Linked DNA regions of Homo sapiens: region 1 is linked to region 2. The links come from fine-mapping of genetic effects on gene expression. A gene starts in region 2. The other region holds a variant in brackets. All regions are shown on one strand. Distances are from middle to middle. Region 1 overlaps GTF2F2 (general transcription factor IIF subunit 2). Region 2 holds the start of GTF2F2 (general transcription factor IIF subunit 2).

What was found. PIP is the estimated chance that this variant, and not a neighbour inherited with it, causes the effect. A credible set is the group of variants that fine-mapping cannot tell apart.
Region 1: its variant is the best candidate, but not a certain one, in a credible set for the expression of GTF2F2 in whole blood (INTERVAL, PIP 0.78).

Annotation. Positions count from the first base shown.
Region 1 is chr13:45,245,916-45,262,431 of GRCh38, reverse strand. It overlaps GTF2F2 (general transcription factor IIF subunit 2), which reads right to left. Exons shown (of 8, transcript NM_004128.3): 6 at 9,462-9,561. Among named protein-coding and RNA genes, the nearest start is that of KCTD4, 53 kb to the right of the region's middle. The variant T/C (reference allele first, on the strand shown) is at 8,498.
Region 2 is chr13:45,113,145-45,128,703 of GRCh38, reverse strand. It overlaps GTF2F2 (general transcription factor IIF subunit 2), which reads right to left and starts at 8,194. Exons shown (of 8, transcript NM_004128.3): 1 at 7,983-8,194. The coding sequence starts at 8,048. It overlaps LOC101929259 (a long non-coding RNA gene), which reads right to left. Exons shown (of 3, transcript NR_120424.1): 3 at 15,498-15,559. It also overlaps the pseudogene RN7SKP4. RefSeq lists a silencer at 4,773-4,966 and enhancers at 7,279-7,920, 8,031-8,160, 7,921-8,564.

The DNA of each region.
Region 1 (16,516 bases), 130 kb before region 2:
GATTTAACTAATACTGTACTACAAAAATATTATTGTTTTAATTAGTTAACTAATTTTAGAGATGGGATCTCACTCTGTCGCCCAGACTAGAGTGCAGTGGTGTGATCATAGCTCATCGCAGTCTCAACCTCCTGGGATCAAATTATTCTCCTGCCTCAGCCTCCCAAGTAGCTGGAACTACAGGGGCATGACACCATACCCAGTCAATTTTTAAAATTTTTTTGAAGAGATAGGGTCTGGCTATACTGCCGAGGTTGGTCTCAAACTCCTGGCTTCAAGTGATCTTCTAACCTTGACATCCTAAAGTGCTGGAATTACAGGCATGAGCCACTGCACCCAGCCAGTTAAATTTTTTTTTTTGATAATGTCTAAGACAGGCTCATAATCCAAATTCTGCTCTGTGGTATCAGATAAGTAGTTCCAGTGTATGTGTAATTATCGAAGGGGATTTAAATAATTTCCATGGCCATTAAGTTATTAATAACTTATAGTTAGGACAAAACCAAGGTCACTGAGGTAATTTTTTAAAACTAAACAGTGCAGAAATGGTAATCTTAATACTATATTCACAACTTGACACTACAAATAAAATTAACTGTACAAATAAACTACCAATGATATGAACTATTCTATTTAGGAGAAGATTACAGTTTTGAGATAATGTTATTTCTTCTCTTTTTAGCTCCTTGCCTTTTGGGCATTTTGTTTCTCAGTGGAGCTCAGGCACTGTAAGGAAATGATATTAAAGCAGTCAGATATCTAACTTGTTGGCAGCCACTACAACTCTTAGTAAGACTGGAGTAGAAACAGCTTTTATATTGTGTGAATTTTAATTACCAATCTTCTATCCAATGATCACAGATCACTGCGCAACTGACTATATAGAAATAAATGTCAATTCAGAAAGTACTTTAGTCTTCAGTTACAAATTTTTACCAAAAAATCCATCATATACAATTAATTTTCACAACAGAACACAAATTATTCTTTTTTTTTTTTTTTTTTTGAGATGGAGTCTTGCTCTGTCCCCCAGGCTGGAGTACAGTGATGCTATCTCAGCTCACTGCAACCTCAGCCTCCCGGGTTCAAGTGATTCTCCTGCCTCAGCCTCCCGAGTAGCTGGGACTACAGGCGCGTGCCACCACACCCAGCTAATTTTTTGTATTTTCAGTAAAGAAAGGGTTTCACCGTGTTAGCCAGGATGGTCTTGATCTCCTGATCTCATGATCCGCCCACTGCGGCTTCCCAAAGTGCTGGGATTACTGGCTTGAGCCACTGCACCCGGCCCCCAAACCTTTTCTTTTTTGAGATGGGGTCTCACTCTGTTGCTTAGGCTGGAGTGCAGTGGCGCAATCTCACCTCACTGCAGCCTCCGTCTCCCGTGTTCAAGTGATTCTCCTGCCTCAGCCTCTTGAATAGCTGAGATTACAGGCGTGTGCAACCATGCCTGGCTAATTTTTGTATTTTTATTAGAGACAGGGTTTCACCACGTTGGCCAGGCTGGTCTCGAACTCCAGGAACTACAGGGGCATGCCACCATACCCAGCCAATTTTTAAAATTTTTTTGAAGAGGTAGGTCTGGCTATACTGCCCAGGCTGGTCTCAAACTCAAGGCTGGTCTCAAACTCAAGTGATCCACCCGCCTCAGCCTCCGAAAGTGCTGGGATTACAGGTGTGAACCACCACGCCCAGCCTATTCTTGACTAAAATGCAACCAAATGTTGACAATCCTTTGTGGATTTGGTATATATATGTTCAACCATCATTACTGAAGCTGTAATCACTGACTAAAATTATAAATGCCACCCACTACCAATTAAAATTTATAATACAGACATCTATAAACTTCTAGATTATTGTTTGCAGAAATACTGTGTTTTGTCAAGGCAGTCTTTGTAAAGCCTTTTAACTTTTGAAGTGAGCATGACAGCTTTGAATATCATGGTTCTGCATGTTAAATCCTTATGAGATATTATTCCCCCTCCCCTCAACTAATGCTTCTATTTCTGCCTAGTGTGTCATTATCTCTTGGGAGGAAATTATTTCTTTAGAATTGGTCAGTCCTTTGTGTGCAAATTCAAATGGACAAAGCATGTAGTATACTTATACTATGTATTATAACAGGCAAATATTACTGAAAAGCCCTCATGATATAGTCCTACAAACATCCTTTTTATTTAGGAAAATTCAAATTTATGCATAGAACTTTAAAAGATCAACCACTCAAACCCCAAATCTTAGTTCTGCAGACTAACACAGTCGGCTGCCACACTGAAGGGAACAGAGCATATATGCATAAAAATGAATTTCCTTTCTAGTTCCTGGGGGTTTACCTCAACAACCAGTTTACTAAGTAAGCTTTTCTTTTTTTTCTCTTACCCATCTGAGCACAGTTAAGGTTTTCGAGTTCTTTCTGGCCAAGAGCTTTTACCAGAAATAAGAAAAAAAAAAATGAGAGAGAGAAAACTTATTTTTTCAAACTGTGGGGCAGAAATTCTAACAAAGAAAAGAAATATTAATTCTTTTTAAAAGTTCTAGGTTTGGCCAGGCGCAGTGGCTCACGCCTATAATCCCAACACTTTGGGAGGCCGAGATGGGTGGATCACATTGGCCAGGTGTGGTGGCGGGCGCCTGTAGTCCCAGCTACTTGGGAGGCTGAGGCAGGAGAATGGCATGAATCCGGGAGGCGGAGCTTGCAGTGAGCCGAGATTGTGCCACTGCACTCCAGCCTGGGCAACAGGGCGAGACTCTGTCTCACAAAAAAAAAAAAAAAAAAAAAAAAAAGTTCTAGGTTTGCGAGAAAGAGGTTTCCTTCTAAGTACCATTACTGAACACCCCACCCTCAACAGGAGATGGCAGAACTATAAAAAGTTCTCATCTCTTTGGTTCAGTGGCTGCATACTAGAATTACCCAAGAAGCTTAAAAACTTAAGATGGCTGGCCTCCCCATTAGATTAACCAAATCAGTTTCTGAGGGTATTTTTCTGTTTTGTTTTGTTTTTTTTGAGATGGAGTTTCGCTCTTGTTGCCCAGACTGGAGTGCAGTGGCATGACCTTGGCTCACTGCAACCTCCGCCTCCCGGGTTCAAGCAATTCTCCTGCCTCAGCCTCCCAAGTAGCTGGGATTACAGGCATGTGCCACAATACCCAGCTAATTTTGTACTTTTAGTAGAGACGGGGTTTTACCAGGTTGGTCAGGCTGGTCTCGAACTTCTGACCTCAGGTAATCCACCTGCCTTGGCCTCCCAAAGTGCTGGGATTACAGGTGTGAGCCACCGCACCCGGCCTATTTTTCTTCTTTAAAAGCTTCCCAGGTGATTCTAGTATACAGCAACACCGAAAACAAATGTCTAGACAACAGAGGACATGATTCCTTATGAGAAGAAAAGGAATTCCTTATGAGAAAGTTTATAAGAGGCCATGAAATACATAAAAGAATGCTATGAAATTTACATAGGCTAGATACGATGTTCACAAAGTCAACCAGAACACACAGAGTCGCCCTTACTTGGATTCAAAGTTGGAGGGAGTTGCAAAGAACCTTACGCATCAGCTGACTCTATAACTTTGATTATACACCTTTGTGAGCAAAAAATTAAAAGCATGAGCTATGCATATATCTTTATAAACTGGACAAACGTACTACTGTATTTATAAATAGATATAAGCATACACAAGATAAAAAATTTTAAAGGGATGAAAGAGTATAATTTTAAGAGTAAGTTTTGTCAAAACTACAAAATACGTTTTCGTTTTGCTCTCAAAATACAGTGATTTGCATTCATGTTCTGTATGCTTAGTTTTTAAATACATTGAACACCGTGATAGCTTTGTATCAGCAATAGCTAAGCTAATATAACAAGGTACAACACTCACAAAGGTCAAGGGCCACTTTGCCAGTTATTTTGCAACAAGTCTTCAACTCTAGCCTTGGTGGTAAGGGTGGGGTGGCAAGAGGTCTGCAGGCTACATTTCCAAGATTCCCTTGCTAGCGGGTTTCCAGCTGGGGTTCTGCCAATAGGAGAATGAAAGTGGGAGGGAGGGAGATTTTTCTTCTTTTTTTTTTTTTGTATTGCAGGAGCACCTCTGCAGCAGCTTCCTGATCTCTTCTTCCTTTTGCAACTCCAGCCCATCCATTTGGTATTCCTAAATCATTTGTAACTAACTCCCTACATTACATTCTTTTCTGCTTGGAATATCTAGAGTTGTTTTTGATTCCACCATAGACACTAACTGAGTCATCATTAAAGACAGGGCATGACAAGCCATATTTAAAATGATACTGATAATTTCCTTTTTGGAAGGGCCAAGTTCTTTTCAGATCTGATTACATCATCACTGTTTGTCACCTCAAAGATTGACTGATAAACCATTTTTAGAAGCAAGAGAAGTTCAGTTTTTCACTTTCTTGTTCACATATGCTTGGTTTATTAGTATTATCTCTAATTGACAGTTTCTCTGCAGAAATCATTTGTTGAGACTGAGTTTAGTTAAAAATAGATACTATAATCTGTAAATCTCTGAATTGAGCACCAATGCTAAAAAGCTGAAAGCAAATGAAAACATGAAGGCACAACGCTCAACCCCTCTGTCCTGTCCCATTTCCGCTCTTCTGCTGAAAAACGACCGACTAGCACAGGAGCTGCAAAAAGATGCCAGGGTCAATCTACATAGTATTTCTAAAGCTCAGTTTCTTTCCTTTACTAGGTGCCAAACAAGATACATGTAAGTTTTATAATAATATAAATATAATAATTTTCCCCCTCACCCAGTGGGCCCTCTTGTAAACCATACTTTGACATCTCCATTATTTCCCAATGTCTGTTTTCACTACTTCAAACAATGGGGGGAAATTTGATGTTCAAATGTTTGTAAGTGCAGGATTAAACAAATTCCTAAAGCTTACTAATCTTGAGTATATTAAAGTGAAGTGTCAATTTAAGAGGAGGATATAATCAGAAACTACAAGTTTTTTAAACACAGAATCCTTTTTATGTGACCATCTCACCTAGTTAATGTTACAAAAAATTTACTGTGGAAAATGCTGACCTACATGAACTGATTCAAGTTTCAGACACTCAATGAAGATTTAAGGTACAGGAAATGCCACTTAGGGAAAAAAAACCTGACATGTCATATCCTAGTAAGAAGATGGTTTTCAGGGGTGCGATTTCAATGGAGTATTCTAAGAGATAAAAATAATCATATAATTCTTTTTGGCCCAGTAGATGGTTTCTGAATGGCAAGTATGACAGACATTATACCCAGATAGTTTGTGAACTAAAAAGATAAATCTGAATTTAATTCTTAGAATAGCTCCAAGAACAAAATTGGATATTTTCTTTACATATATACAGGTAAATTCATCTATTTGCCATAGGTGGGTGAAAAAACTGTGGGTAAATGCAAGGTAGTTTCTTTCTGACCAAATGTAGGAACATTGTTTTTCAAATACATATGCAATTTCCCAGTCCCTCTTTCACTTTTTTGTACAAATTTTTTTTGAATTTTTATTCTGAAAATTGCATTCAAAGAAGCTCAACTGTTAGAATGAAACACTGAGCTTCATGTTTATATAACTTTATCTGGCAAGACTTTCAAAACATTTCAACATTATATCGAGTTAAAATTTTTTATTAAAAGTCTTTATTATGCTTCCTCTAAATCATTCTTGCTGACCTGTGTTCGTTTATGTTTCTCAGTCTTTTAAAAGTCAATGTCCTCTTCTAATAAATAACAAAAATGTTATACTCTTTCTATAGTTGGTATTACACTACAATACTGAATATGTTTTTTAAAGCTATGCAGGTGCCTATCCTGGTTTACTCCCAAAAGAAATAATGATTAAACATTCAAATGCAATGTGGTAGATTATAGTCAATCTTTGTTTGGATGTAAAAATCTTAATCAAAGATTCATTACTATAATGACTCATTTTCACTATGACAACCTTAACAAAGGTTGATATCTTGAACTAAAATGTCACTTAATGTTAATTATCTTTATAGAGGGTGCTATAGCTTTATATACTAAGGAGTTCAGAATATAACATGTTTGTACTTACTTTATTCACCAGGGGTATGTATCTCAGACACGAAGCAGATATTTAAAAAGTACTTGTTTAAAGAAGGTAAATCTTAGACAATCAGTAAGGTACTATTATGGCTTTCTTCCCTGGCTTTCTTTCCTTTCCAATCTTCCCCTTCCCAACATAACTTTATTGCTTACCAACAATTCAGGCAATACGTGCTCACTGTGACAATTTCAACAATTGGAGAAGATTTTATAAAAAAGAAAATTAGGATAAAATCACGTAGATCCTACCATCCAAAAATAATGACTTAAAATATTTATTTAATGAATCCCCAATTTGGGACACTTGTTTCCAATCTTTTCCTATCTTAAATAATAGAGAGAAGCATTATTGTATATATATCATTGAGCACTGGTCTCACTATAATAAATTCCTAGACACAAAACTGCTAGGTCAAAGGATATATCCTTTTATAGTGCATTTGACATAAATTACCAAACTTCCCTCTAGAAAGGTAACAACTCTTTACAGCCTATGAAAGTGCAGTCTTTCTTGTACCCACTGTAATAAAAATATACACAAGGGTAGAAATCACAGAGAAGCCTGGCCCATAAAAGGATAAAAAAGGTGAGTCAGGAGCTACAGAAGCAGCACACCAATGAGGAAGAAAGGCAAAAACAACTAAGATCTATACTGTTTTACAAAGTAGAATAGAATCTCTATTTACACGTAGCTCTCAGAAAACTGTGTGTATTCCCATCCAACAGTAGAAAAGACTACAATGGAAGAGAACAAAGATGTGGACTTTAATCTATTTATCTAAGTCAGAAAACAACAGAAAAATACCTCTTCTGGATCATCTGAAACCTTACCTGTCCTTTAGTTTATTTTCCTCCTAAAGCATAACCAGAGGCTATAAAATGAAAGCTTGGCTGAATGCAGTTGAACTTTTACCTGGTTTGTTTAACTCACATAGTGTAGCAATTTCAAAATGTGAATGTATTTATATGGGTCATGTGCACTCCAGTTCACACAGTCTCTAACACTGACTTTCTTAAATTTCATTGTTCCACTCATTTAAGATATCTACTTAGCCCTAGTGGCATTTGCTACTTTCATATAAAATAACCATTCAAATATCATAAAGTAGTAGTTTGGTAGATGCTATCCTGTGTCACTTAATAAATGTTGATACTAAAGGCTAGTCTTTTTTTTTTTTTTTTTTTTTTTTGAGACAAAGTCTCACTCTTGTCCCCCAGGCTGGAGTGCAATGGTGTGATCTCGGCTCACTGCAACTTCTGCCTCCTGGGTTCAGGCGATTCTCCTGCCTCACCTCCCGAGTGGCTGGAATTACAGGTGCCTGCCACCACTCCTGGCTAATTTTTGTATTTTTAGTAGAGATGGGGTTTCACCATGTTGGCCAGGCTGGTCTTGAACTCCTGACCTCAGGTGATCCACCTGCCTTGGCCTCCCAAAGTGCTGGGATTACAGGCGTGAGCCACCGCACTCTGCCAAGGCTAGTCTTAAAGAAAATTTTCTTCCTAAACTCAGTATCAAAGGTAATCTTAAACAACAAAGTGGGATACAAAATTCCAACTGTTAATTGCTATTTGACTTAACTTAGGTATTTTATTTTCAGGAAACCATCACACTTATTACATTACAGATATTTCAAAACCCAAAACCCTTAGCCCTTTTAGCAACTGCTAATCACCAGCGGCAACATACACAGTGGTTAACAGTATGGCTCCTAAGCTAGACTGCCTAAGTTCAACACCTGGACTGATAAATTACTGGCTGCACCACCTCAGGTAAGCCAGTCTCTCTGCCTGTTACCTTATCTGTTGTAGTTTCTTCATAGGGTTGGTATGAAGATTAAGTGTCATTACTTACGAAGCACTCAGACCAATACCTGGCACAAAGTATACATAATATGTATGCAATAAATGTGTATATTGTATAATACATATAGTACATATAAGATACACAACAATAAAAAAGTCTTGAAATATAAATATACAATACTTTCCCCTTATTGGCAGGAGATATGTTGCAAGACACCTCCCTGCCCCACTTGGTGCCTGAAATTGTGGATAGTACCAAACTCTATATATTATGGTTTTTCCTATACATACATATCTCTGATAAAGTTCAATTTATAAATTAGGCACAGTAAGAGATTAACAAAAATAACCCATAATAAAATAGAATAACCCTAACAATATACTGTAATAACAGTCTGTGAATGTGGTCTCTCTCTCTCTCACTCTCTCAAAATATCTTGGTGTTCTGTACTCACTCTTCTTCTTTCTTTTTTTTTTTTTTTTTGAGACGGAGTCTCGCTCTGTCACTCTGTCACTCAGGCTGCAGTGCAGTGGCGTGATCTCGGCTCACTGCAAGCTCCGCCTCCCATTCTCCTGCCTCAGCCTCCCCAGCAGCTGGGACTACAGGCACACACCGCCA[T/C]GCCCGACTAATTTTTGTATTTTTAGTAGAGACGGGGTTCACTGTGTTAGCCAGGATGGTCTCGATCTCCTGACCTTGTGAACCGCCTGCCTCGGCCTCCCAAAGTGCTGGGATTACAGGCGTGAGCCACCGCGCCCAGCCTCTTCTTTCTTTTTATCATGTGTCAATAGATCTGTTAACCAAGAGGGCTACTAAGTGACTAATGGGTGGGTAGCATATACAATGTGGATATACTGGACAAAGGAATGACTCACATCATGGATGGGATGGAGCAAGATGGTGCTAGGTTTCATCATACTACTCAGAAGGTTGCACAACTTACAACTTATGAATTGTTTACATCTGGAATTTTCCATTCAATATTTTTGACTGTAGTTGACTGTGGGTCACTGAAACTGCATAAAGTTTTAAAATTGTGGACAAGGGAGTACTACTGTACAGATGGTCCTCACTTTGCATGGTAGTATGAGACCATTAAAATGCCTGTGAAAGCTGAAATCAGGCAAAGTGATCTTAATAATCAATGAGAAAAATTACTGCTGTTCCATGACCTTTAAAATTTTTTAACACATTAAAAACTTTCTTATGGTTCATCACAAAGGTATAGAATAATTTTTAAAAATAGTAAAACTAATATTTAGTTAGTACATTGTAATTTAAAACATCAGCAACATTGCAACATTGAGAATTGAAGTGTTTTACTTCTTTGTAAAAATTTATCAAGGGTACTTTAAACAGTGGTTGCCTTCTTTTTGCCATGATATAACTTGCAATGTAGAGTGAACATCTTTTCTGTACTTTTAGCAAATTGTCATATTCCTTACTAAGTCCAGATCAGGTACTGTAATTCAAGCACCTGATGGCAAGGTGTGTAAATTCTCAGGTTCTTTGGAAACCTAAGACTCTATGATACAGAAAAGAATGAAGATATAAAAGAATGAAAAGAGACAAGCAGAAGACTTACATTGTATTGATGATTAGCAACAGGTTTGTAATTGGTTGTTACAACTTTGTCCAGCTGTTGTGATAGCCTCACTGGTTTGGAAGACTCTTCTATTTGCAATCTGAAAAAAAATATAAGGCATTATTAACACTCTTGTTTAGCAGAGTGAAATATGAAGAGTTATTATTTCTATAATTCTTATTCAATGAAAACTAATATATAAAAAGGTAACCTCAGAGGATACACTAGCTTTAATACTTTAAAAATGCACTGAATATACGTGACTATAATGCAGAAACCAGTACACAAGCTAAATATACAAACTAACTCATTATAATGCCACAATGTACTTTTCACCCGCTTATTATATAGGCAAATCTTAACCACTAAAACCAAGAAGCTAATCAGCCTTAAATTTCTGGGGGAAAAAATCTTCATGTAAAAATAAATCATCTTAAATTACATGGTCTAAAATCAATCAAGTTATTAATTCAAAATGTCTACTCAGCTGATAAAAGATAAAGGTAAATAAAAAGAGAATACATCAACACTCAAGGTTTACTGAACAGCACAGAGAGAGAACATTTCTATCATCACAGAAACCTCTATTAGACAGCACTGCTCTAGAACTACTGCAGGACACCATCTAAACTGATCCTGTCTCTACAAAAAATTAAGAAAAAAAAAAATTAGCCAGGCACAGTGCCTGTAGTCCTAGTTACTCAGGAGGCTGAGGTGGTAGGATCACTTGAGCCTGGGAGGTCGAGGCCACAGTGAGCTGTGACTGTGCCACTGCACTCCAGCCTGGGCAACAGAGAGAGACCATGTCTCAGAAAATAAAATATAACTCAAAACACTGCTTTTGAAAATATATGCCACCATGTATAGTATATTATAAAACAATAGCTGACTAGTACATGTATATTTAAGTAGCTATCTTAGGATATTTTGTTTTATATTAAGTATAGCAAGGCTTATAATCATTTACTTATTTAGAAAATTAATTCACTTGGTATATCAGCACAGTAAATTTAAAAAACTGTTTTAAGGAAGGAAAAGTACAGCTTTCTAAGCCAACTATTTTTAATGATGCAAAAGTTATCACTGTACCTTTTAAACTCATCAGCAAGATATCAAAATATAAGATTGCAGTTTTTTAAGAAAATTGCCTAACATATCTAGTTAGATTACAATTGAAGAGTAAGTGTAAAACATAAGCATTTTTGGACAAAAGCTTATGTTTATTATTTATAGATCCTCACTGAGAAACTACTCAAGAATTTATTTCAGTAAGAAGGAAAATGAATCCAATAGGAAGCAGTGAGATGCAATGGTTACAGCAAAAAAATTGAAAACGATGTTAGAAAATTGCCTTTAATTAAAAAAAAAAGGCAGTTTTTTTAAATGGTGAAACTAACATGAAAGATGGGAAGGAAGAGATCAGACTGGATGCATTTTAAGTTTGTTTTCTAAATGTTCTGCAATAAGTATTTACTACTTTTATAACCTGAAGAAGTACACTTTCTTAAAAAGAGAAGAAATACTATAATTCCTTGGATGGTTCATTTGAAAACCACAAAAATGCTGGCTATTAAAAAATAATACAAGTTTAACATTATGTATTATTTTATTTGAATGGGACTTTAAATTCTTTGGTTCAATAAAATAGAAATTAAAAACAATTTCCATTTTAAATTCCTTCAAAAGCAGAATTAAGTATAAAAGGTGTCTGTATAACATTCCTATTATTTAATTCCTTGGATGAAGATAATTCTCTATTTACTTCTGCTTATTTTCAGGTATATACTATCAAATTGCTGAGAAGATATAAGATATTTACCAATTGCCTTTTCAATTTGAAATCTAAAAATGCCATAGGTTTTGTTTTTACCAAGATCCCCAAATTCAGTATACTCATTTCTGTATGGAAATGTAAATATTTAAATTATTCCAGTTACATATAAATCCATGCTTATCCTTTAAATACACAAGATGATTTACTTTATAAAGTACAAAAAGTTCTCTGGAAGTGTCTTTAGAAACTTACTGGATATGTAACCATAAATAATACTTACAATTATACTTTGCTTTTCATGTGCCACACAGAGTTTCTATGAACAAGGATTAAATTTTCTTGCTAAGACTGAGAAATCAACTAGCTAGAGTCTAGAAGGGAGATGTGCAACCCAAGGATGGATTTAGATTAATGATTCTTCGATGGCCTCTTACTATTCTCGGGGTGCAGCACAAGTTCCTTCATAGGACTTTAAGACTCTTTGGGATCTAGTCCCTGCGTATCTCTCCAGTTCTCCTTACCATTCTCCTGTATCTGCCTCTGGCTGCAGCTGTGCCACAGCCAGACTCTGGAAGGAGCCTCTTGCTGTCAATTATCCAGCAAGTGTTTACTGGGTACCCACTTCTGCCAGGCACTGGGTTAGAGGTTGGAGACATAGCAGTAAAGACTTGCTCTAGTGGAAGACAAGCATTTAATACTATAATTAACTGCAGTACTGAAGATGAACAAGGGTGATGGAGGGATGGTAGGACAACTGACTGCATACTGATAAAAAGAAAATATTAATCCCAAGGTGTGCATTTTGAGAGTAAACTGGAGCAGAGCTGCTCATGCTTATAAGAAATAAGGCAGGCTGGGTGTAGTGGCTCACACCTGTAATTTGGGAGGTGGAGGCAGGCAGATTACTTGAGGTCAGGAGTTCAAGACCAGCCTGGGCAACATGGTGAAACCCTGTCTCTATTAACAATACAAAAATGAACTGGGCATGGTAGTGCATACCTGCAATCCCAGCTAGTCAGGAGGCTGAGGCTCGAGAATCGCTTGAACCCAGAAGGTGGAGGATGCAGTGAGCCAACATCGTGTCACTGCACTCCAGCCTGGGTGACAGAGAGAGACTGTCTCAAAAAAAAAAAAAAAAAAAAAAAGAGATAAGGCAAAAAGATTAGGTGGAAATGATTCCTCCAAGGAAAGTTATGTCAAAGCTTCTAAGAGATAAACCTTTAGAGAGAGAAAAAAGATTGAAGACAGATATAGGAATGTTTACAAAGTGTCGGGACAGCTAAATGTGTTAACTTGGTGGGGGATGGGAGTGGGTGGGAAACACAAGTAAGTGTCAGCCTGTTTCTGAACACACCTGTGTCCTAATCTTGGCCCCCCATCCTCCTCTAATGCAATCAGCTCTCAGGGGTTTGGCCTCTCTAAATGGTAATCTGTTATGTTGCCGCTAAATTATCTTCCCTGTTTCAGTCATCTCCACGATTTGATCTTATGAGACATCCAAGGAAGGAGGCATGCACTAGCTCCTTCCTTCCATATTAAATGATTGTTCCCATTACTTCACAATTTGAAAATTCCTCAGGGTTTCAGTTTGTTTAGTGAAGTGCTTCTTTATAAACGGTAGCTTATTCTGGTCACACTCTTACACTTGAATTTATTTGTAGCCACTGCATCCAGACTCAGGTTTATGCAGCATACTTTCCTTTCAATTTTAATTCTACAATTCTAAAAGCCAATTTCATCACTCATACAGTGTCATGCAGTTTTTATCCTCAAAGCATTTAACCTTTTACATAAAGGAAAACACTGATTTTTTTTTTAAAAATAAACTCATTTTAAAAATTTAACTGTTCTATCATACATTTAAAAGGCAACCACAAGGGTTTTAATTAAAAGAGGACAACTTATGATTCAAAACTAAAAAGGTTAATGTATGAACTGAAAATATAACAAAGAACTAAATCTTAAAATACTTTAACTCGCTTTGAATCGTTTAAAATAATTTAGCAGGGTCCTTAACACTAAATAATTCATTTAACACTATCTCATGAAGTGACAAGAACAACTGGCAACTCCATTTCATCACTGAACAATGTACTAAATTAAACATTACTGACCTTGATATGCTTTCAAAGTCAAGGTAAGGTTTATCTAGGTTTGTACAAAATAATATAATTTGGAAATATGTGGTTCGTAAAGCACCACATATTTCCAAACAAACTACACAGAGGTATTAGGCTGACTTGGGAGCAAGCTAAAAGGCTACCCTGACCATTTTAAAAAATGAGTCTCCACTTTTTCAGAAAATTTAAAAATACAGTGTTGTTTTCAGGAAACAAATAGAAAAATAATGGCTGATCACTTAGATACAGCCAGGCTACATTTTACTTTGTTTTGTAAACCATTAAAAAAATACTTGGTGCTGGCTGGGAGTGGTGGCTCACGCCTGTAATCCCAGCACTTTGGGAGGCAGAGACAGGTGGATCACCTGAGGTCAGGAGTTCAAGACCAGCTTGCCCAACATGGCGAAACCCAGTCTCTACTAAAAATACAAAAAAATCAGCCGGGCATGGTGGCAGGCGCCTGTAATCCCAGCTACTCAGGAGGCTGAGGCAGGAAAATTGCTTGAACCCAGGAGGCAGAGGTTGCAGTGAGCTGAGATCGCGCCATTGCACTCCAGTCTGGGCAACAAGAGCGAAACTCCGTCTCAAAAACAAAAAACAAAAACCAAAAAAACAAAACACACAAAAACAAAAACAAAAAAACAAAAAACAAAACAAAACAAAAAAACACAAAAAAAACTTGGTGCAAATTCAGAATATAAATATATATTCTTCAAATGCCAGGACTAACCATGCCTTCTGGTGTTCCCCATAGACATAGAGAAAGTGCTTGGAAACATACAGTACATCTATAAAATAATTGCTATTCTAGTCATAAATCACGCATATCTATTTGTCACAATGTAAGACTATTAAGTATCAAGTAACAAATTTAGTCAAGCTTGAACTAGTATTCATTCTAATGAAATAAAACTCCATTTATTTAAAAAAATCAGGCCAGGCACGGTGGCTCACGCCTGTAATCTCAGCACTTTGGGAGGCTGAGGTGGGCAGATCATGAGGTCAGGAGTTCGAGACCAGCCTGGCCAACATGGTGAAACCCCGTTTCTATTAAAAATACAAAAATTAGCCAGGTGTGGTGATGCACGCCTGTAATCACACCTACTCAGGAGGCTGAGGCAGGAGAATTGCTTGAACCCAGAAGGTAGAGGTTGTGGTGAGCTGAGATGTCTCCACTGCACTCATGCCTGGGCAACAGAGCGAGATTCCATCTCAAAAACAAATGAACAGACAAACAACAACAACAACAAAAACTGCAATTTTAATTTTAGGTAACTTCAGAATGGTATTCTTGGAAATTCAAGTTGGTGAAGCTTGAAAGTAGTCCCTAAATTATTTGCCTGAGTTATAACATCAAAAACACTAAAAATAAAATACAGGATACAGGTGGCCGGGCACAGTGGCTCATGCCTGTAACCCTAGCACTTTGGGAAGCTGAGGCAGGTGGATCATGAGGTCAGATCGAGACCATCCTGGCCAACTCGGTGAAACCCTGTCTCTATTGAAAATACAAAAAATTAGCTGGGTGTGGTGGCACACACCTGTACTCCCAGCTACTTGGGAGGCTGAGGCAGGAGAATTGCTTGAAGCCAGGAGGCGGAGGTTGCAGTGAGCTGAGATCCGGCCACTGCACTCCAGCCTGGGTGACAGAGACTCCATCTCAAAAACAAAACAAACAAACAAAAAAACCAGGTATCTGTCTAACAGAATAGCTTATATTCAGGAAGCTTAATTTAATTTGAGACAGTCTCTCTCTGTCTCCCAGGCTGGAGTGCAGTGGCGTGATACCAGCTCACTGCAACCTCTGCTTCCCAGGTTAAAGCGATTCTTGGGATTACAGGCATGCACCACCACACCTGGCTGATTTTTATTTTATTTTTTGTATTTTTAGTAGAGACAGGGTTTTGCAATGTTGGTCAGGCTGGTCTCGAACTCCTGTCCTCAAGTGATCTGCCCGCCTTAGCCTCCCAAAGAGCTGGGATTACAGGCGTGAGCCGCAGTGCCCAGCCAAGAAGCTTAACTTTTTTTTTTTTTTTTTGAGACAGAGTCTTGATCTGTCGCCCAGGCTGGAGTGCAGTGGCGCTTATCTCGGCTCACTGCAAGCTCCGCCTCCCGGGTTCACACCATTCTCCTGCCTCATCTTCCCAAGTAGCTGGGACTACAGGCGCCCGCCACCACGCCAGGCTAATTTTTTTGTATTTTTAGTAGAGACGGGGTTTCACCGTGTTAGCCAGGATGGTCTAGAGCTCCTGACCTCGTGATCCGCCCGCATTGGCCTCCCAAAGTGCTGGGATTACAGGCGTGAGCCACCGTGCCCAGCCAATGAAGCTTAATTTTAAAGTGAATTTACACAGAGTAAAATCTAGGAAGGCAAGTAGGAAATATATGGACTGTCGTAAGTATTTTAAATCCTAAGATTAATGAAAAATCAGAGAATTTTTGAAGCAAGGAATTAAATTTGTGTTTTAAAAATATTCCTCTGGCTACTATTTGCAGAATAGAATGGGGCAAAAATGGACATCACTGACTAGGAAAGCTACTGTACCAATCCAGAGGAAAGATAATATTCACTTGGAACAGGGTGATGGTAAAGGAGTGGGACTCAAGTTAAACAAATTTAGGAAATATTTTGAAAACAGATTCAATAGAAAGTGGTGCCTAAGTAAGATAAAGGAGAAATAAAGGCATCAAGAATAACTGGGCTCAAACAATATGATACCACCTTACTCCTCCAAGAATGGCTATAATTTAAAAAATAAAAAAATAGGCCGGGCGCGGTGGCTCACGCCTGTAATCCCAGCACTTTGGAAGGCCAAGGAGGGCGGATCACGAGGTCAGGAGATCGAGACCATCCTGGACAACACGATGAAACCCCGTCTCTACTAAAAAAAATACAAAAAATTAGCCGGGCATGGTGGCGGGCGCCTGCAGTCCCAGCTACTCGGGAGGCTGAGGCAGGAGAATGGCGTGAACCCGGCAGGCGGAGCTTGCAGTGAGCTGAGATCCGGCCACTGCATTCCAGCCTGGGCGACAGAGCGAGCTCCGTCTCAAAATAAATAAAATAAATAAATAAATAAATAAATAATAGATGTTGGCGTGGATGTGGTGAAAAGGGAATACTTTTTTTTTTTTTTTTTGAGATGGAGTCTCGCTAGTCGCCC
Region 2 (15,559 bases):
AAGGATCGTTTGAGCCCAGGAGTTGGAGGCTACAGTGAGTCATGATCACATGCCACTGCACTCCAGCCTGGGTGACAGAGCGAGACTCTTTCTCAAAAAATAAAATAAAATAAAATAAATTTTATTTTTTTGAGACGGAGTCTCACTGTGTCACCCAGGCTGGAGTGCAATGGCATGATCTTGGCTCACTGCAACCTCCGCCCCCCAGGTGCAAGTGATTCTCTTGCCTCAGCCTCCCGAGTAGTTGGGATTATAGACGCCCGCCACCATGCCCAGCTAATTTTTGTATTTTTAGTAGAGATGGGGTTTCACCATATTGGTCAGGCTGGTCTCGAACTCCTGACCTCGTGATCTGCCCGCCTCGGCCTCCCAAAGTGCTGCAATTACAGGCGTGAGCCACTGTGCCCGGCCGCAAAAATAATTTTTTAAAAAGGCCAGGGGGGAGGCCGGGCACAGTGGCTCACACCTGTAATCCCAGCACTTTGGAAGGCTGAGGCAGGCGGATCACGAGGTCAGGAGATCAAGACCATCCTAGCTAACATGGTGAAACCCCATCTCTACTAAAAATACAAAAAATTAGCCGGGCATGGTGGCGGGCACCTGTAGTCTCAGCTACTCGGGAGGCTGAGGCAGAAGAATGGCGTGAATCCGGGAGGCAGAGCTTGCAGTGAGTCGAGATCGCGCCACTGCACTCCGGCCTGGGTGACAGAGCAAGACCCGTCTCAAAAAAAAAGAAAAAAAAAAAAAAAAAAAAAAAAAAAAAAAGGCCGGGGTGCCAGGCACAGTGGCTCATGCCTGTAATCCTAGCACTTTGGGAGGCTGAGGCGGGCAGATCACAAGGTCAGGAGTTCGAGTCCACCCTGGCCAACATGGCGAAACCCCGTCTCTACCAAAAATACAAAAATTAGCTGGGCGTGGTGGCAGGCGCCTGTAATCCCAGCTACTCGGGAGACTGAGACAGGAGAATCACTTGAACCCAGGAGGCGGAGGTTGTAGTGAGCCAAGATCGTGCTACTGCACGCCCAGCCTGGGCGACAAGAGCAAGATTCCGTCTCCAAAAAAAAACAAGGCCAGGGGTGGTGGCTCATGCCATAATCCCAACACTCTAGCACTTTGGAAGGCCAACGTGGGTAGACTGCTTGAGTCCAGGAATTTGAGATCAGCCTGGGCAACATGGTGAAACCCTGTCTCTACAAAAAAAAAAAAAAAAATTAGTTGGGCGTGGTGACACATGCCTATAGTCCCAGCTACTCAGGAGGCTGAGGCAGGAGGATCACTGCAGCCCAGGAGGCAGAGGTTGCAGTGAGCCGAATTCACAGCACTTCACTCCAGCCTGGGAGACAGAGTGAGACCCTGTCTCAAAAAGAAAGACCAAAAAAAAAAGCAGATTGTGCTCCATAAGTTAATGGACAAAAACAAGTTTGCAGCTCATATTGCACTGTCTTCATTATTATAATAAAACTGTAGATTCCCAGGTAAGCCCACCAGCTTATTTAATTCAAAGGTTCCTAAAATACTACACCCTTGCAATAAAAAATAATAATAATAGCACATTAATTATATATAACTCTCTACACCACGAACTTACAGAAATTGGCTTCCCAGAAGTCCCGGCCTATTAAGTCTCAAAAGAGGGAGGGAGAGGAAGAAAAAAATGACAGTATATATGGTTTCAAGGCTCCAAAACACCACTGTCAACATATCACTTACGATGTATCTGTGTTATTTCCACTATCTCACTCATTACTGAAAATCAGATGGAGACAAGGTAATAAGTACAACAGGGTATGGTTGCTTAGATTTCCCAATACCAGAGAAAGTGACAGAAAATAACTCACTACAGCATTATTTCCTCAAGGAAACCTCCCTTGACTTCCTAGACCAGGACAAGTCCCTTGCTATTCACATGCACAGAAACAATATTCCTTGCTTCAGTGTCCTTCTCTGAAAATAATTGTTTTCGTTAAGACCAATATTTGACTGATGTCTGTCTCCTATACTGGGCTATAAGTCGTAGTTTACACAGTATATATACCATGTCCGTTTTGTTCACTGTAACATACTTAGAGCCTAGCAATCACTGAAAGCTTGTGGGATGAATCAATCTGCCCACCCATTCACTCAAACTGGGCAGCATAAGAAAGTGGTTCTTGTCGCTGGGCACAGTGGCTTACGCCTGTAATCCCAGCAGTTTGGGAGGCCAAGGCAGGGGGATCACGAGGTCAGGAGTTTGAGACCATCCTGGCTAACATGGTGAAACCCCGTCTCTACTAAAAATACAAAAATTAGCCAGGAGTCGTGGTGCACGCCTGTAATCCCAGCTACTCAGGAGGCTGAGGCAGGAGAATCGCTTGAAGCCGGGAGGCGGAGCTTGCAGTGAGCCAAGATCACACCATTGCACTCCAGACTGGGCAACAGAACGAAACTCCATCTCAAAAAAAAAAAAAAAAAAAAAAAAGTCGTTCTTCCCTTTGAAGCCAAGGTGCTTCTTTGCCAACTTTGCTTCATCAAATATCTAGTTCCCCAACTGCTAGCCTCTAAAGCCCTGTTTCTCCCAGAAAATTAAAAGCACTGAAGTGGACATCATGATGTGACACCCAGATTCCCCCTTCAGCACTGAGGGCATTATTCCCACAGCTGCTGAGAGTGTGGCCAGCAGACAGCCCTCAGCTATTAGGCCTCTTTGAAATTGCCTCCACTAAAGAAAGACCCCTTGCTCAAGGTCACGCCCACTTACTGGGGCAAACCATATCCACTGACTGGCTGGGACAGGAGGACAGCTCTGGAGGGCTCCTGTGGAATCATCCTGGCTTTTCACTGAGACTGCCTTACATGCTCTACCCAATCTTGCTTAAATCCTTTTCCTTCCATACATGCTGATCCCAAGAGTACTCACTAATAAATCCCTGTCTCCATCTCAAAATCAGCTGCTCAGGGAACCCAATCTATGACATGCAGCATTTATTCCCATGTTTCCTTGAACTTCAAGATACAGAACTGACAAGACCAAAGACATAAAAATGAAGTCCCCACCTCACCTCTGAATCTCTAGGGAGATAACCCATTAAAGAGACACAAAGGGGGCTGGGCACAGTGGCTCACACCGGTAATCCCAGTACTTTGGAAGGCCGAGACGGGCAGATCACGAACGAGGTCAAGAGATTGAGACCATCCTGGCCAACACAGTGAAACCCCGTCTCTACTAAAAATACAAAAATTAGCTGGGTGTGGTGGCCCGCGCCTGTAGCCCCAGCTACTCGGGAGGCTGAGGCAGGAGAATCGCTTGAACCTGGAAGGTGGAGGTTGCAGTGAGCCAAGATTGCGCCACTGCACTCCAGCCTGGCAAAAGAGCGACACTCCGTCTCAAAAAAACAAAAACAAAAACAAAAACAAAAAAAAACAGAGAGACGCAAAGGGGAAAAAAAATTTCTATGGCAAAGCTTTTAGCCTAACAAATTTGAATCACTATTTCCATGCTTAGGCAAGATAATTAACCTCCCTAACCTTAAATTTTATCATCTGAAAAATACAGGTAATTAATACCTACTTTACCGGTTTGCTTTGCAAAATACTCGCTACACAAGAAATGTTAAGTTCCTTTTTCTCCTACTATCTGCAAGGCTTTAGGGTATCACCCATTCCAGTTTCATCTCTCCCTTGTATATAACTTTCTCTTTGGCCACCAATGTCCAAGCGCTTGCCTGTCTGTGAAAAAATGAAAGCTAGCCGGGAAGGGTGGCTCACATCTATAATCCCAGCACTTTGGGAGGCCAAGGTGGGTGGATCACTTGAAATCAGGAGTTCAAGACCACCTTGGCCAACATGGTGAAACCCTGTCTTGGCTGGGCACAGTGGCTCATGCCTGTAATCCCAGCACTTTGGGAGGCCAAGGCAGGCAGATCACGAGGTCAGCTGTTCAAGACCATCCTGGCCAACATGGTGAAACCCCATCTCTACTAAAGATACAAAAAATTAGGTGGGTGTGGTGGCACACACCTGTAATCCCAGCTATTCGGGAGGCTGAGGCAGGAGAATAGCTTGAACCCAGGAGGCAAAGGTTACAGTGCGCTGAGATTGTGCCATTGCACACCAGCCTGGGTGACCGGGTGAGACTCCATCTCAAAAACAAAAACAAACAAACAAACAAAATAAACCCCATCTCTACTAAAAATACAAAAATTAGCTGGGCATGGTGGTCAGGCTGGTCTCCAACTCCCAACCTCAGGTGATCCACCCGCCTCGGCCTCCCAAAGTGCTGCGATTACAGGCATGAGCCACCATGCCTGGCCGCAAAAATAATTTTTTAAAAAGGCCAGTGGGGAGGCCAGGTGCAGTGGCTCACGCCTGTAATCCCAGCACTTTGGGAGGCAGAGGCGGGTGGATCACAAGGTCAGGAGATCGAGACCATCCTGGCTAACACGGTGAAACCCCGTCTCTACTAAAAATACAAAAAATTAGCCGGGCGTGGTAGCAGGCACCTATAGTCCCAGCTACTCGGGAGGCTGAGGCAGGAGAATCGCTTGAACCCACGAGGTGGAGCTTGCAGTGAGCCGAGATCGCGCCACCTTAGATGCTGGGGCTGGCATTGCCCTCAACGACCACTTTGTCAAGTTCATTTCCTGGTAAGACAATGAATTTGGCTACAGCAACAGGGTGGGGGACCTCATGGCCCACATGGCCTCTAAGGAGTAAGACCCCTGGACCACCAGCCCCAGTGACAGAACAAGAGGAAGAGAGAGACCCTCAATGCTGGGGAGTCCCTGCCATACTCAGTCCCCAACCACACTAAGACTCTCCCCTCCTCACAGCTTCCATGCAGACCCCCTGAAGAGGGAGGGGCCTAGGGAGCCCTGCCTTGTCATGTGCCATCAATAAAGTCCCCTGTGCTCAGCCAAAAAAAAAAAAAAAAAAATTCAAAATTCCAGAAATAGCACTTCATTAGGCCAGAACAGTACAGGTCCTGGATATTTTGTTATTTTGGTAAACAATCTACTACTATATTTGTTTTTCCCTAAACACACTATTTATCCCCAGTCCTGCCCGTAGGTTTTGGTTGTTTTTTTTTTTTTCTTTTTAGATAGGGTTTCACTCTGTAGCCCAGCCTGGAGTACAAGGGGTGTGATCTCAGCTCACTGCAGCCTCAACCTCCTAGGCTCAAGTGATCCTCCCACCTCAGCCTCTCAAGTAGCTGGGACTACAAGCGTACACCACCACGCCCAGCTAACTTTTTATAGTTTTTGTAGATAAAGGGTTTTGCTATATTGCCCAGGCTGGTCTCAAATTCCTGGGCTCAAGCAATTCGCCCACCTCGTCCTCCCAAAGTGCTGGGATTACAGACATCAGCCACTGCACCCGGCCTGCCATAAGCTCTTCTTGAAAGCTTCTTTGGAGGTTCTAGCAGGGGAGTACAACCATACATATACCCTTGACTGAAGACCAGTCCTCCTCTATCCGGATGGTCATCCTCTTTGGTCAAGCGTGCAGCTTCGGGAGGGACATACATGGAGCAGTGTGGGAGGAAGGAGACACCCGCCTAGCCAGCCAGATTAGCCAAATCAACCCTAGTAATCAATGGGGTGACAGATGTCCCAGACAGATCACACTCACATCCATTTTTTTTTTTTGAGACAGGATGTCACTCTGTCGCCCAGGCAGGAGTGCATGCAGTGGCACAATCTTGACTCACTGCAACCTCCAAATAGGCTTTTCTTAAACGTCACCTTCTTTATGATGTCTTCCCAGTTCTGGTGAAGCACTAATTTTTTTCCCGCTCAAAACTCTCAGAGATCTTGTATGTATAGTTCTTACTGTATTTACACAGTTCTATACCTGTCTAGTGATGGAATTAAATATGTACAAGATGATCTATAAACCGTGAGATATCCTAGGAAGAAACATTATTTAGCAACAAAGATCAGAACTCAAGGTATTATTTTTAATAGGAAAATTAATGTAAGGAGAAAAAACTTGAAATCAATATGTACTTCAATTCAAATTCTGATTAGATGAGAATGAAGATACACTTTCTAAGCAACAAATTACACTTTTTTTTAATTTATTTATTTTTTTGAGAAGGAATTTTTGCTCTGTTGCCCAGGCTGGAGTGCAACGGAGCAATCTCGGCTCACTGCAACCTCCGTCTCCCGGTTTCAAGTGATTCTTCTGCCTCAGCCTCCCAAGTAGCTGGGACTACAGGCGCACACCACCATGACTGGCTGATTTTTGTATTTTTAGTAGAGATGGGGTTTCACCATATTGGCCAGGCTGGTCTCGAACTCTTGACCTCATGATCCACCCACCTCGGCCTCCCAAAGTGCTGAGATTACAGGCGTGAGCCACCATGCCCAGCCCGATCCTGTGATAATTTTCTAATTGTGACTCTGGTTACCCTCCCCTCTAATTCGTACTGCACACTGCCAAACATTTTTTTTTTTCCTGAATAAATATCTGGCATCTCTACCTCACTCAAATCCTCCAAAAAGTTCGTTACTTCCTTGTAAACTAAAGTTAGAATATCTCCGTTTCATGATATGACAATCTGAGTATATGGTCCCCATCTTCATCTACACAGATCTTCTGCTCTAGGTTCTCTCTGTTTTCCACAACACGCCATGCTGATTATATATTTTGAGTCTTGCATTTCTGTTCCATTCCCCATGGTATACACTGTGTCCACCCATCCAAATCCTGTAAGACAAACATTGAGCATTTACCATGCTCCTAGGACAATGGCACCATCTCAAGTCACACCATTTTTTCAAGCTTTTTCCTTCAGTCCGTAAGGGCAATCTCCTCCTTAGTGACTCTCCCCCCAAGTAACATGCTGCTGGAGAGAGAAATGCCTATTTAATCCATCCTTTTAAGTCACACTGAGTTTGGAAATAAGTCAAATGAGTGCCACAGACTAAGGCGAGGGCTGAAGAATGAGAGGTCATGCATTTATTCATCATCTATTTGTTGAGTAATTACCATGCGCCAAACACTATTCTGGGTATGACAGGCAAAGATCCTGTTCTCATGGAATGTGATTCTGTGTGTTGGAAAGACAGAGGTAACCAACTTTGAACATATGAACACAAAATCACTCTACACTGTGAAAAGTGCTTTGAAGAATGTAATACACATCTGTCGTGTTAGCAAATGATCACAAGGGGGCTGTTTTAGGAAGGCCGACAAGAAAGACCTCTTAGATTTAATTGACGAGAACTCAGCCATGTGATAAAACAGTTAAAGCATTAAGAAACCAAAAGTCCTTACATTTTAAGTTTCAACGACTTTCAGGATCACATTTTGAATATGCTTAAGTATTATGAAACTCCCCTAGGAGAAAACACTCCCCAATATGAAACAATAAAGCACAAATAGTGCTTACTGTGAGCTAACCAAAATTGCTGTCTTCACATAAAACGTTTATTGACGGCCAGTTTCACGAGACCCAAATGTGCTCTAAAAGAATACTCCAGTCCAATGACCTCTCCTTCTGTGAGTTTGGGGCTCTCTCGCCTCTTTTGAGAGCTTCATTAAGGACCATCAACCTAAGAGAACACTTTTAAGAGTAGGCAGGGACCAGTCCTACTTTCTGGCCGAGAAAACTGTACAGAAAGTAGACATTCAACTACCTCACGCAGGCTCATGGCTAAAACCAGTTTCACCAAGGGAAGATACAAGGAATTCTTCAGTCTGGGATAAAATGCACCGTCCAAATCTGGGGACACCAAGACAAGATTCCAGGAAAGCCGTGAGAAAGAGATCTAGTCCAGGCAGATTCAGAGTAGTAACTGGCTGAAAGACACTTTGCGTCCCTAAACTAATTCCTCGTCTGCAAACAGATACAACAATGACTCCTGCCTCTCAAAATGTGTGAAGCTCTAACGAGATAGCCGTAAAAGAACTTTAAGAGGCGCACGGAGCGGGATAGGCTCAAGTTACTTAAACTATACTTGTGTTAGGAGGAGCGCAAGTGGGAGACTCGCGAACATTACCTTGACTAGCCACACTCCTGTGTTCTGTTTGGCGCCGGTCAAGTCGAGTTCCCCGCGCTCGGCCATGGGTCTGCAGCCGGTGGAGGCGTGCGGGATGCAGCAGCGACCCCAGGAGCCGCAGGGCTGAGGAGCGGGCGTCCGGAACAAAGGACAAGCCGCGCTGAGAGGCGAAGAGCCGGCGTTCCTTACCTGCCAGAACACTGGGAACCGAGGAAAAGAGGAACACGCCGCCAGGAGCCGGGACTGCGCCTGCGCACTGCTACGTCAGTACGGCGCGCTGTTGCAGACAAACTTTCTGTTTCGGAAATTTCTTGAGTGGGCGTGGCTGTCCGCGATGTCTGCATCTGAGGGATTAAAACGTAGGGTGGGATGAGCTAAAACGTTAGCAATGTATTTAAAGACATGGTCAGCATAACTGAAGAAAAAGATTATCAGAACGGAAAAATGGGGTTCAAAGAGACGAAAGGTGTCAGAACATGTCCAACCCTAGCCAAGGAGAGAGAGACAATATTTGAAGGACAGGGTCAGGGTAGTAAATTGGCGTCCCTGGCCAACGTCATTAGCACAAATGGGCACTGGGATCAAACTTAGTAGCCTTGGGTATATTGAAAACATGCCGTTTCTAGACCTGGAAAAAAAAAAGCCGTGTTTCAGCTCAGAGGCTACCCGAGCTGTTCTGATGAAGCAAGCGGAGCACCTCAGTTTCCAAAACCCGGAAGTCTGTAACGAAACGAACAAGTAAGAGACAAACCTGATCGTTTCCTCCCCTGCTTAAACAGTTTTCTCTTTCTCTTATTGCCTCTAGAATAAAGTTCAATCCTCCTGCTTCAACTGGGCCCTCTCAATTTCATCTCTTTGCACCTCCCACCATCACTCCGCCATGCACCAAACCACATCAAACCCAGCAGACTTCCCTAAACACGTCAGAATCTTCGTCGGTCATTTCAGAGCCTCTGCACACTGGATTCCCTTCCCTTGGAAGCCCTATTTTACCCCTGCCCTCACTCTCACCCCTGTGCTCTGGTTGGCAAACTCCTACTTATGGTTCAAGACCAATGAAAATGTCACTTCCTATGAGATCTTTTATCAACTTCCCCAGAAGAAATTAGTTTTTCTTCACATCACAGTGTGATACTTAGCACTCTGAACTATAATATATATGTTTACATATCTGCCTTTGCTTTCCAGACAATGAACTCCTCCTAGGCGGAAAGAGCTTTATTGAGGTATAATTGACAAATAAAAAATAGTGCTTTATTCATTTTATATCCACAATGTCTAGCACAGTGTTTAACACATTGTCAGGTTTCAGTAGGCTTTGGGTGAAAGAACATTCGCTGAAGAGAAACAAACAGTAAGGTATTGTTAAGAATGGCAAGTAATTTATTGAATCACACATCAGAGCCTTGCACAAAATTGAGGAAATTTTATGTGTGTTCAGCATAGGGCCAGGAAAAGCTGTCAGAACTCTGCTTTTAGCTAGGAAAACTAATAGGAAAGATGGGAGAGACCAGGAGTGTGTTGAAGATGAAAGTTTCAGGCTAGGCTCAGTGGCTCAACCCTGTAACCCTAACTTTGGGAGACTGAGGTGGGAGGATTGTGTCTGCCCAGGAGTTCAAGGCTACAGTAAGTCATGATCGTGCCATGCACTCCAGCCTGGGTGACAGAGCAAGGTCCTGTCTCTAAAAAATAAATACTAAAAACAAAATTTTTTTGGCCAGGCGCAGTGGCTCACACCTGTAATCCCAACACTTTGGGAGACCGAGATGGGAAGATCACTTGAGGCTAGGAGTTCGAGACCAGCCTGGTCAACATAGGAAGAACCCTATCTCTAAAAAAAAAAGAAAAACAAAAAAAAATTTTTTTAAGCAGAAAATGAAGGTTTCTTCTTGTGCAACAACTTGGAAAAGGGCCTTTTTAAAACATATAAAGAGTAAGCAGATTAAGGGAACTGCTCTAAACTTTAATCAAGGAGAAGGAATAAATTGAAATATGAGACCATGGGAGAAGAGAAGCAAAGTCTAGAGCACCCCAGGAATGGACTTTAAAGATTGGAACCCTGGCTTTGGTCTCTGGGTCATGGGAGGCCTTAAAATGTGTACGTGGTGTGGGTATGTGTGTATGTGTGTGTACACAGAGATTGAGAGAGAAAAAAAATGGCTGATGAAAGGGCTAGCGAAGAACGGAAAAGTGGAGATTTTAAAATGATACATAGAAGAAAGAAAAAAACAACGTATTGAGCACCTCTTCCTCGTACGCTGTTGAACAAAGAGCAAGCTTCTCCTGTCTGTCCTTTTCAAACCCCTTCTAGCTTGAAGAGGGATGTTTACAGAACCCTGATAGAAAAGGAGGGCATGGCCCCTATGAACCAAATTCACAGATTTACTGTGGAGACCCTTAAGGTGGATAGATACTACAGGCAGATCCCTCACCTTCCTAAGGACTCATTATATGCCAGATCCTCAGCTAGTTATTTTCTGTATTATCCCATTTAATCCTTATAACAATTTGCCAGAGTAGGTATTATTTTTCCTCAATATAGCCCTATATGTCATTAAACATATCAACATCCAAGAGCTGAGACCATATCCCAGGATGGGGCTCACAGAGCATAGGATGCAGAAGTCAGTGCCCCAGAGAAGGTAACACCAAAATTTTTTACTCCCTCAGATGATTAACTAGTCAAGTTGTTACCAAAATTTTTAAGGCGCAAATGCAATTCTAGGAAGGAGGGCCCAAGAACTCATTGCTGGCTGCAATTTTTCCAAAAAGTCTGGTAGTGCTTAGGCCAACTTGAACCTCCATCTTTATCTAGGGCTTAGATTCTAGGTCAGACCTCAAGGCCACCCAACCTTCTTTGCTGCTTTGTTTTTGTTTTTGTTTTTGTTTTTAGGCGGAGTCTTGCTCTATCACCCAGGCTGGAATGTGCAATGACATGATCACAGCTCACTACAGCTTGACCTTTCGGGCTCAAGCTATCCTCCCACCTCAGCCTTCCAAGTAGCTGGAACTACAGGTGCACACTACCACACCCAGCTAATTTTTGTATTTTTTGTAGAGACGGGGTTTCACCATGTTGCCCAGGCTGCTCTTGAACTCCTGGGCTCAAGCAATCCACCCACCTCAGCCTCCCAAAATGCTGGGATTACAGGCATGAGCTACCATGCCCAGCCCCAACCTGCTTAATAGGCAGAACTACGTTCTTTTTTGTGTGTCTTCCAGACTAGCTGCAGCAAGAAAAACCCCTAACACCACACCCACCACAAAACATGCTTCAGTCTAGATGAGTGTTCTCAGCCTCTGGTTCCTGTACAAGTTGCATTAGAATTACCTGGGGGAAATGTGTTTTAAAATGAAGACACCTGAGCCCCAATCCAGGCAAACAAAATTAGACTTTCTGGATGTGAGTCTAGAAATTGACACTTTTAGCAAGCTCCCAGAGTGTTTCTTAGGCACACCAAAATCTGAGAATCATTGTTCTAAATGATAGAGTTCTAATCGATAGAATTCTAATCGATATTTTTCTAATCAATATAGTTCATTAGAACTGGGCCAGTTTCCAAAGTCTGAGACACGTGAAAAAATTTACCAGAAAGCCTTACAGCTAGAATTCCCTCATGCCTTGTTAATTCAGAACACCACAATTCTATCAGGTAGCTATTAGAGAATAAGCAGCAAAGCCATTAGGCGAGATGTTACAAGTGAGTTGAGGGAATTAGAATGACTTTAACAGATAGCTGAGTTCACTTTCAGATTTTGTCCTTGTCTATCATACACAGGCCTGATCTCTTCAGGCCAGAGATTTTCTTTGTTCACACTTACTCAGAAACATTCTAGCAAGAAAAAGTATTACCTCCAGGAGAGTTCATATAGGCAAAAAATGCTACCACCAGGTCTTTCTTAATAGACCAGACTCATTACCTATTGGTTACTAACATAAACATTGTCATTCAAAAATTACAAATGAATACAGCATTGTGGTAATTCATTCAATTTCCCTGACATCAGTGATGTAGTAGGTAGATAATTTTGCTTCGTTATGACACCAAGGCTATAAAACGTCTCTGAATTCTCCCTGCCTTTCCCTTCAACCCTAACAGTTCCCTCCTTCATAGAATGCCCAAATTCCTGGGAGATCCCTTGTTTCCCCAGTTACACACAAACAAAAAGAAATACTTCCTAAAATAGTTTCCATATTGTTTAGTATAGAGAGAGAGCATGAGCTTTGGAGTCAAGCTTTTTACTATTTTTTTTTTTTTTTTTTTGAGACAGAGTCTTGCTCTATCACCCTGGCTGGAGTGTAGTGGCACTATCTTGGCTTATTGCAACCTCCACCTCCCAGGTTCCAGCAATTCTCATGCCTCAGCCTCTGAAATAGCTGGAACTACAGGCATGCACCACCATGCCCGGCTAACTTGTATTTTTAGTAGGGATGGAATTTTACCATGTTGGCCAGGCTGGTCTCAAACTCCTGACCTCAGGTGATCTGCCCACCTCTGCCTCCCAAAGTGCTGGGATTACAGGCGTGAGCCACTGTGCCTGGCCAGTCAAACATATTTCCAAGTGATACCTCTGCTGCGTACCAGCCTAATTATGTTAATCTCTCTGCACCTGTTTCCTTGCTTATATAATGGAATTACTATACTCACTTTGTAGAGTTATTATGTGACTAAACGAGAAAACATATTAAAAGAATTTAGCATTATGATGTGGAAATTATTTTGTAACTGCATTAATTATATTGCAGTTATATATATTGCAATTATATAAATAATTGAAAGGAAACACAAAAGTTTTATTATAGGCAGCAGTATACTGGCAAGTGTTTAACAGCTGGGCTCCCTAAACTCCCCTACCCCCAGGAAAGCCCTGATTTGTAGTGTTTGCCAATTTCCATGGTGCAAGTATTTCTGCAATAGCTGATTTCAAGCTGCCAAGAAGAGATCACTGAAGGCAAATTTGGAAGAGAGGCACTGTACATTGTATAGTATATAAACTCTATAGGCCAGGCGCAGTGGCTCACGCCTGTAATCCCAGCACTTTGGGAGACCCAGGCGGGTGGATCACTTGAGTCCAGGAGTTTGAGACCAGCCTTGCCAAAATGGAGAAACCCCGTCTCTACTAAAAATACAAAAATTAACTGGGAGTGATAGTACACCCCTGTAATACCAGCTACTCAGGAGGCTGAGGCACAAGAATCACTTGAACCCAGAAGGTGGAGGCTGCAGTGAGCCAAGATCATGCCACTGCACCCCAGCCTGGGTGACAGAGCGAGACTAAGTTTCAATAAATAAATAAATAAGCTGTATAGTATTGTAATACATTGTATAGTATTTTTCACTAGGTAGATATATTAAATATAATTTAAGAGCACGGATAATAATAAAATACAGAAAATAATTAGGAAGTGATGAGTATTAAGTGTTTATTACCTTTATGTTTAATATTATTTATTTCTTCAGCAGTATTTTAGGAAAAGGAAGTAGCATCTGCAAACCCTGAGGAGGGAAGCCCCTGGTATGTTGGTGTCTGTGGGAGAGAGAGGATGCCAGTGGGCAGGATATAGTGAAACTGTGGCAGTGCCATTGGCTGAAGAGGGAGAGAGTAGCTAGACCATGCAAGGCCTTGGAGACCTTGTACACAGCAAATGTAAACTGGAAGGAGAATTTTTTTTTTTTTTTTGAGACGGAGTCTCACCGTCGCCCAGGCTGGAGTGCAGTGGCGCGATCTTGGCTTACTGCAACCTCCGCCTCCCAGGTTCAAGCGATTCTCCTGCCTCAGCCTCCTAAGTAGCTGGGATTACCGGTACACGCCACCACACCCGGCTAATTTTTTGTATTTTCAGTAGAGACAGGGTTTTACCATGTTGGTCAGGCTGGTCTCGAACTTTTGACCTTGTGATCCACCCGCCTCAGCCTCCCAAAGTGCTGGGATTACAGGCATGAGCCACCATGCCTGGCCAACTGGAAGGTTAATTTAAGCTTTTTTTTTTTTTTTGAGATGGAGTCTTGCTCTTTCGCCCAGGTCAGAGTGCAGTGGTGCTATCTTGGCTCACTGCAAGCTCTCCCTCCCGGGTTCACGCCATTCTCCTGCCTCAACCTCCCGAGTAGCTGGGACTACAGGGCACCCGCCACCAGGCCCGGCTAATTTTTTGTATTTTTAGTAGAGACGGGGTTTCACCATGTTAGCCAGGATGGTCTCGATTTCCTGACCTCGTGATCCGCCCGCCTCGGCCTCCCAAAGTGCTGGAATTACAGGCGTGAGCCACCGCACCCAGCCAATTTAAGCTTGAATATAAAATAATATTTACATTTCCAAAAGATCCCTGTAGTTGCTGTGGAAAAAATGGATTGGAGGAGACCAGAATGAAAACCAAGAGACTAGTTGAGACACTATTTTACTAATCCAAATGGAAAAGGATAGTGGTTTTGATTAGGGAAGTGGTAGTGAAGATGAAAGGAAGTGGATCAATTTGAAAATATCAGAGATAGTTTTAGGAGGCAGAATTGACAAGGCTTTGTAATTCTTTGCTGTATAGCAAAATAGGAACAGGACCATCTACCAAGTGATAACTCAGAACAAGAGAACAAAACAAAACATACACACACAGCATTGCTCCTTCTGGGAGATCAGACAAGACTCTGCATGTATTTTGCCTGATGGATGACATGATTCCGTTGAATTGCTTCTGTTCAGTGCCTTATGTCTGATGTGACATATGGCTGCTGTGACCTGCAAGAAGCCTTCACTCTCAGTAAGTCACTTTAATTGCTCATTAGGTATTGCTGTGGGAATAAAGTGTTAAATAAAGCATGAGAAAATTCAATTCATCATTACTGTATTGAAATCCAATTTATTTTCATATGTAATTTACCAAAACATGTATATCATATTTTATATATTAAATAAAATTATAGTTAGGAAACAGCACTGAAATACTTGATCAAAGTGCCCAAATAAAAACCACAAATAAGAATAAGCCCTAAAATACCATATTAAACAGACAGATCTTCACTAGTGTTCAGATTTCAAAGCCAGAGAAGCCATGTGTGCTGAATATCAATGAGCAATTGTGTCCACATTCCACTAAGGGCAAAAGCTAGGGGCTTCCTTTTTGATGGATTTCCTCCCCAAATACACAAGCATCAGGGGAGGACAGTTTTCACATCCAGGGGTAGGTGAAAATATTAGATAAATATCAATGGGTGGAGTCAAGGAATGTTCAGTTTAAGGACCTTTTCTATAGCTCAAGCTCTTGCCATAGTTTTGTCAACATAATTCACTTCCCTCGTGTGTAAACGACTAAGCTGACATGGTGGCTGTGCTGCATATAAAGCTGTTTGGGGACCATGGTCCTTCCATCTCATATTTTGCCATCCCTGTGTGGTGTCCTTGTCTGCATGGGGGACCGTAATGTCTGCATTTTTCAGCCAAAAGGAAAAGTGAAAGGATAAAAAGAGTGTATATGACTTTGGCCTTTTTTCTTTTCTTTTTTTTTTTTTTTTTTTTTTTTTTACAGTGTGTTTAGATTGGAAGCCAAATAAGGTCCATACATTGTGGTTGGTTTTGATGTCTCT